Regions from separate parts of the Homo sapiens genome. Here region 2 is reported to be linked to region 1. Evidence: microRNA targets listed by miRTarBase, many of them from high-throughput screens and not tested one by one. Region 1 holds a microRNA gene; the other region holds the end of a gene's coding sequence.

Region 1 (3,399 bases):
CCAGCTACTCGAGAGGCTGAGGCAGGAGAATCACTTGAACTCAGGAGGTGGAGGTTGCAGTGAGCTGAGATTGTGCCACTGCACTCCAGCCTGGGTGACAGAGTGAGACTCCATCTTAAATAAATAAATAAATAAAATAAAATAAAATAAAATAAAATAAAATAGACCGGGTGCAGTGGCTCACATCTGTAATCCCAGCACTTTGGGAGGCCAAGGCAGGCGGATCATGAGGTCAAGAGATTGAGACCAGACTGGGCAACATGGTGAAACCCTATCTCTTCTAAAAATACAAAAATTAGCTGGGCGTGGAGGCATGTGCCTGTAGTCCCAGCTACTCGGGAGTCTGAGGCAGGAGAATCACTTGGACCTGGGAGGCGGAGGTTGCAGTAAGCGGAGATCTCACTACTGTACTCCAGCCTGGCGACAGAGTGAGAATTCCATCTCAAAAAAAAAAAAAATTTAGCCAGGCGTGGTGGCTCATGCCTGTAATCCCGACACTCTGGGAGGCCAAGACAGGTGGATCGCGAGGTCAGCCGTTCAAGACCAACCTGGCCAACATAGTGAAACCCCATTTCTACTAAAAATACAAAAATTAGCTGGGCGTGGCGGTGGGCGCCTGTAATCCTAGCTACTTGGGAGGCTGAGGCAGGAGAATCGCTTGAACCTGGAAGGCAGAGGTTGCAGTGAGCCAAGATCACGCCACTGCACTCCAGCCCAGGCAACAGTGCAAGACTCCATCTCAAAAAATAATAATGAAATAAATTAATTAAATAAAATAAAAAAATAAATAAATGAATTTTTTTTTGTAGAGAAGGTGGGTCTCACTATGTTGCCCAGGCTGGCCTCAAAATTCTGAGCTCAAGCGATCCTCCTGCCTTGGCCTCCCAAAGTGTTAGGATTACAGGCCTGAGCCGCCATGCCTTTTTAAAAAAGAATCTGTTTTTACTTCTAAAGGTTGGGAATCACCAACCAGTTGGAGGAGAGAGGCCCCTCCTGCTTCCTAGACTTCCACCACCCATTCATCATCAGACAAAACAGGAAGTCCCTCCCTAGAGTTACTACAAGCCTCACAGGTCAGTTAGGGCCCATTTGGAAGCCACAGCCCAATGGCCTGTACCCAGGCTGCACTCTACCTCTGGTCCATGTCTCCGCCAGGGTCTCACCTCGTGGACTGTGGGGCGGAGACAGACGGCTGCTACCTTCCTCCTCGCTGCCAGTGTCAGGGTCACTGCTGTCTTGCAGCCGCTCTTCGGGGCTCCCCAGTTCCTGCCTCTCTCGGTCCTCAAAGTTTCGATGGACAGAGCGAGTAGTGACAGGTAGATCCAGGCGGTCAGTGCCTCGGCTGGGCTGTGGACAGTGGGCAGGAAGAACAGCAGGTCAGGGACTGAGTAGTGTGAAGATTGGAGGTTCTGCTTGGCTGAAGGCAGCAGCTCTCCCCCCTGGGGCTCACCCATGAGTCCCCTTCAGGAGATCCACCACCAACTGGCCTCTTTCAGCACCACGACCCGAGTTAATTTCCTCCACCCCTGCACCCATCTACATTTCTTTTCAGTTCTCCAACCAGTATCTCAATATCCTTCAAGTCAGTTGACTGATTGCATTTGGGCTCAAATCCCCAATGGCCCAATTTCTTTCGGGCTCCATGGACCCTTATGTCCACCCCAGGTCCATTCACCACTGCAGGCCACCTTACCTGTGGGGGGTTGAAACTCAAGTACAGGGCATCGCCTGCGGGGAGGCTGCGCCGCCGAGGATCCACAGGTCTGCGGGCCCAGGGGGCCTCAGCTGGGAGTGGCTCGGTCTGGCCCAGGGCGGCCAGCTGCCTTCGAGCCTCTTCGGCCTCACGCTCCAGCAGTGCCCGGGCCTGCTCACTCTCCCGGAGCCGGGCCTCCAGGCTGCCAGCTTCGGTTGCCCGTTCTTCACCTAGCCGCCGGCAGCGCCGTAGCTCCTCCTGCAGCAGCGCATGTTGCCGCTGCAGTAATGCCAGTTCCGTGGCCTGCTTTTCAGGGGCCACAGGGGCAGCCCCAGCCCTGCCAGCCTCCCCATCCCGAGAGTTGGCTCGGCACAGCTTCTCCCGCCGCTCAGGGCCCTCAGGGAACCGGGCTTCCATCAGAGTGTCCTGCTGGGCCACAGCTGCCTGGGAGTAGAATGCAGGCAGAAGGGTTTATCAGAACCCCTGTGCTCTTCTACCCCTCGCCTTCACCCTCCAAGGCCCAGATCATCGCTCCTGGAGAGCTTGGATTGGGAGGGTATTTAGAAAGGCCTGTTGGGATGACCATGCCCCACCTAAACAGGCATCTCTAGCCTGGCTCCTCCCCTTCCCCATTCAAGCCCTTGTCCTACTGACCTGTAGGCCATGTAGAAGTCCATAGAGATTGACCAATCGCTGTAACGCCTCCTGAGGACAGACAGGGTGGGAACAGGGCCCCAGCTTTAGGATGGGAGAACTGCCCAAAAGTTGAACAAGGGTGGGTGTGGGGACAGTAGGATCCGGAGACATACTTGAATGTAGACGCTTTCCCCACCCCACTCCAAACTGGGCTCTAACTACTCAGACTAAGAACATCCTCCCTTCAGTCTCCTATACCATCAATTCCCATCTCACCTCTTGCGGTGATCTCAGCTGATTTCCATTTCGATCCTGCAGAAATGGGCAAGAATGGGGAGTCAGCAGGCACACAAATCCTGGGTGCCTGCCCCTGACAGCTTTGTGTTGAGGATCCAGAGGCTGGCTGTCCCTCTCCCACCCTCTTGCCAAGTCCCAGAACCTCTTGAGGACCTACCCTCTGGCTAGAGTCTGAGTCAGCTCTGCAGAGTTCAATGGAGCCATTGAAGGTTCTGGCCTCACCATCTGTTGAGAAGGAGAAAAGGATGGCTGAGCTCACTTCCCTGGGGCCCTGATACCACTTGATCCCTGGTACCACTCTACTAACTTTGGCCCCTCCCACCTACTACCTTGGTCCCCTGCCCTGGTACTCACTGGCAGTGACCCCAGGACTCGTGTTACCACCGCTGTCTGGTTCCAAGGGCAGGGCTGGCTCTCGGGGTGTCAAGAGCAGTTCCACTCCTGGCCCCACCAGCAGGTCTTTCAGACCCTCCACTGTGGGGAAAGAGGAAGAGGTGAGAACAGGAATGACACAGGACCCTGAGGGGAATGCCATTCACCCCCACATGTGGGACACTTGGGCATCTGGGGGAATGCCCCCTGCACTGGCAGTGGGGTTTCACTCACACAACCACTGATGAGGTAAAGGGCAGTAAATGCCTACGAGGCAGCAGAGTCCATGCAGCATGGACGATATGGAGCAGCAGCAAGGACCACACCTCCTCCCCTGCCTTTCCCAGGAACTGGCCCAGAAGAGGCACTCAGGGCCGTTTATGGTTTATAGGGTTGGCATC
Region 2 (3,399 bases), not on the chromosome of region 1:
TAAAGGACCAGGGAATAGAATGGTCAAGCATGTTTCCAAGTTTAACCTAGGCCTGGCACATCCTTGCCAATTGCTCAGATGGCAAGTGAGGGGCAACTAAGTGAAGAGAATAGCAGGAAGACCCACTTGGGGTGGACACTGATGAAAAACACAAGCAGTATCAGACTCACTGTTTTCAGGATTAAAATCCCCAGATGCCCTGTTATTGGTCTATGTCACTACCAGTAGGACAAAAGGCAATGCTTCTGAAGACTAGAATATGCAAGGAAAAAATTAAGGTGCCTGCCTGCCTGGGGCCTAACGAGCCAAACAGTGCTAATTTCATCCATGCCAAACAAAATTGTTCATTCCTTGCTGATTTGGGTTTTAAGGAACCATGCTGATCATCAGAGAAACCAGGCAATTCTATTCTGAAGCCCAGGGGAAGAAATGGTGGGGATTTCTGAGTTACAGATGGTGCAGGGGTTAACACTATCTGCCACTATGAAGGGAAAAATCTATCTTGGTAAACTTTGGTCTTCCATAGGACATGGAACCAGAGTAGCAAGATCAGGGCCTGCGTGACCGATCCTGATTGAGCAGGACTTCCTCACATAAGGTACACAAGAGCTGGGCGCAGTTGCTCATGCCTGTAATCCCAGCACTTTGGGAGGCCCAGGCTTGTGGATCACTTGAGGTCAGGAGTTTGAGACTAGCCTGGCCTACATGGTGAAACTCTGTCTCCATCTCTACTAAAAATACAAGAATTAGCTGGGTGTGGTGGTACATGCATGTAATCCCAGCTGATCAAGGGGCTGAGGCAGAATCACTTGAACCCAGGAGGTGGAGGCTGCAATGAGCTGAGATCATGCCACTGCGCTCCAGCCTGGGCAACAGGGTGAGACTGTCTCAAAGAGAAAAACAAAACCCATAAGATGCACAGGTATCTGAGAAGGGTCTAAACACCCTAGAACTGCAAGCAAAATTTTGAGTGTATACATGTTTTCCTGGCGAAGGGGTCCTCATTCTCAAATCCTGAGCTTTTAGGAAAAAGTACTAAGCCAGTTTCAGGTTACGATACAAAAGCCACCAGATACACTTAGAGCCAGTCAAGTTTGAGAATTCTCAAAGCCATCACTGAAAAGTTGGAACACATACTCACAGCAGAGACAAGTGAACATTTATTTTTATGCCTTTCTTCCTATGTGTATTTCAAGTCTTTTTCAAAACAAGGCCCCAGGACTCTCCAGATTCAATTATGTCCTTGGGCTTGGTCGACTGCTGCAGGAGTCTCAGGGAGCCTTCTACAAATGCTAGAGTGACTCATTTACCAACATTAAACCCTAGGATACATGCAACAAAGCAGGACTCCTTCCTCCATGGAATGTGCCGATTTCAGATGACACAGCACCCAATGCAGAAAACACTGGAATTTTTCCTTGGAACTCGACTGTGATGAGAGGTGCTTGACATGAACATATGCTACTGTCTTTTCTTTTTTTTTGAGACAGAGTTTCGCTTGTTGCCCAGGCTGGAGTGCAATGGCGTGATCTCAGCTCACTGCAACTTCCACCTCCCAGGTTCAAGCGATTCTCCTGCCTCAGCCTCCTGAGTAGCTGGGATTACAGGCACGTGCCACCATGCCCGGCTAATTTTTGTATTTTTAGTAGAGATGGCATTTCTCCATGTTGGTCAGGCTGGTCTCGAACTCCCAACCTCAGGTGATCTGCCCACCTCAGCCTCCCTAAGTGTTGGGATTACAGGCATGAGCCACCACGACCGGCCAGCTACTGTCTTTTCTTTGACCCTTTCCAGTTTCTGAAGATAAAGCAGGAAATAATCTTCTCTGAAGATACTTGATAAAAATTTCCAAAACAAAACACATGCTTCCACTTCACTGATAAAAAATTTACCGCAGTTTGGCACCTAAGAGTATGACAACAGCAATAAAAAGTAATTTCAAAGAGTTAAGATTTCTTCAGCAAAATAGATGATTCACATCTTCAAGTCCTTTTTGAAATCAGTTATTAATATTATTCTTTCCTCATTTCCATCTGAATGACTGCAGCAATAGTTTTTTTTTTTTTTTTTCCGAGATGGAGTCTCGCTCTGTCGCCCAGCTGGAGTGCACTGGTGCAATCTTGGCTCACTGCAATCTCTGCCTCCTGGGTTCAAGCGATTTTCCTGCCTTAGCCTCTCGAGTAGCTGGGACTACAGGCACGCGCCACCACACCCAGCTCATTTTTGTATTTTTAGTAGAGACAGGGTTTCACCATGTTGGCCAGGATGGTCTCAATCTCCTGACCTCATGGTCTGCCCGCCTTGGCCTCCCAAAGTGCTGGGATTACAGGCGTGAGCCACCGCGCCCGGCCAGCAATACAGTTTTTAGTTACTCGACATCTTTAAGCCTATAACTCTTAGGCTATGCATAGCCCCATGTCCTAATCAGGCATTCACTGATCCCAGCAGGTCTCCATCTATTTGTACCAGCCTCCTCTATTCCTCCCAATCTCAAGGTTACTCTTAAATACTAGTAAATGCAAAAAGAACTTGTAAAGTGGCAAGGCATGGCCTATCAAAAGTCAGCCCAAGGGCAGTTTTCAGCCCTGCCTCACCTGGGTCTAGTTCAGCTGACGGATGAGCTGATTGATGCGTTCACCCCGATAGCCAGGTGTGCCCATCTCCTTGAGGAAGCCCACTCTATTTTTGGTAGCATGACGGGCCACTGAGAGGTGGAAAGGGCACAAGAACCATGAGATCTCCTGGAAATGCTTCCCTGGGAAGGCAATTTCATGAATGAGGTCTTCCAAGCAAATGACGCCAAACTTCCCTAAGAAACACAAAAGCACAGATTCCTTTATTTAACATGTATCCAGCATATACTAAGCTGGCCACTCTGGCAGACTCTTGGGGCCCCAAGAAGAATACAACCTGAATCTCACATCAAAGCTTCAAAGACCCTGGCTTTCTGCCCCAGCTGATCCCTAAGCTGTAGCACTCACCCAGGTGCTCCTCAATCACTGTATTGTCTGTCAGAGGGATGGTCTTATTCTTGACCTTGGCTTGTCCACGTTTCAAAATGAGTTCTCGGACAGACTTCAGATTTGGAAATCTATGTAGGAAAATAAAGCACGGTTTTCACCAGCACCTGGCACACTACATACCAGTCCTGCAGCCTGGCTGAGAGGTTGGAGAGGTTCTCCCACACACTCACTTCTCCCAACGAGCAAGTGTTCTGCAATCACATTCCAGCTGAAATGCTTGGAAATACTCCTGATAAAGAACTGAAGTGACCCCACTTACATAATTAGAAATTTAAATTTATGGATGTAAATGTTCACCAGGGAAAATATTGCCAACAAAAACAAAACAGAAACCATGTCCTAGCTTACCTTAGGGGCTACGACTCTGGCCTTAGGT

What was found. Region 1 holds the annotated microRNA hsa-miR-6738-5p (CGAGGGGUAGAAGAGCACAGGGG, at 2,174-2,196, opposite strand). A microRNA usually pairs through its seed, bases 2 to 8, with sites in the 3' UTR of a target mRNA and lowers its output. Matches are read on the target gene's strand: a 7mer-m8 pairs with bases 2 to 8, a 7mer-A1 pairs with bases 2 to 7 and ends in A, and an 8mer does both.
Region 2: miRTarBase lists RPL7L1 as a target of hsa-miR-6738-5p. Seed matches in the 3' UTR shown: 7mer-A1 at 87-93.

What each region holds. Positions count from the first base shown.
Region 1 is chr1:155,949,136-155,952,534 of GRCh38, forward strand. MIR6738 (microRNA 6738) reads right to left here and starts at 2,201; the gene lies at 2,138-2,201. It overlaps ARHGEF2 (Rho/Rac guanine nucleotide exchange factor 2), which reads right to left. Exons shown (of 22, transcript NM_001162383.2): 16 at 2,981-3,100; 17 at 2,784-2,851; 18 at 2,606-2,641; 19 at 2,348-2,398; 20 at 1,694-2,137; 21 at 1,164-1,347.
Region 2 is chr6:42,885,666-42,889,064 of GRCh38, reverse strand. RPL7L1 (ribosomal protein L7 like 1) reads right to left here. Exons shown (of 6, transcript NM_001366481.3): 5 at 2,982-3,091; 6 at 1-2,809. The coding sequence ends at 2,601. Among named protein-coding and RNA genes, the nearest start is that of PEX39, 3.5 kb to the left of the region's middle.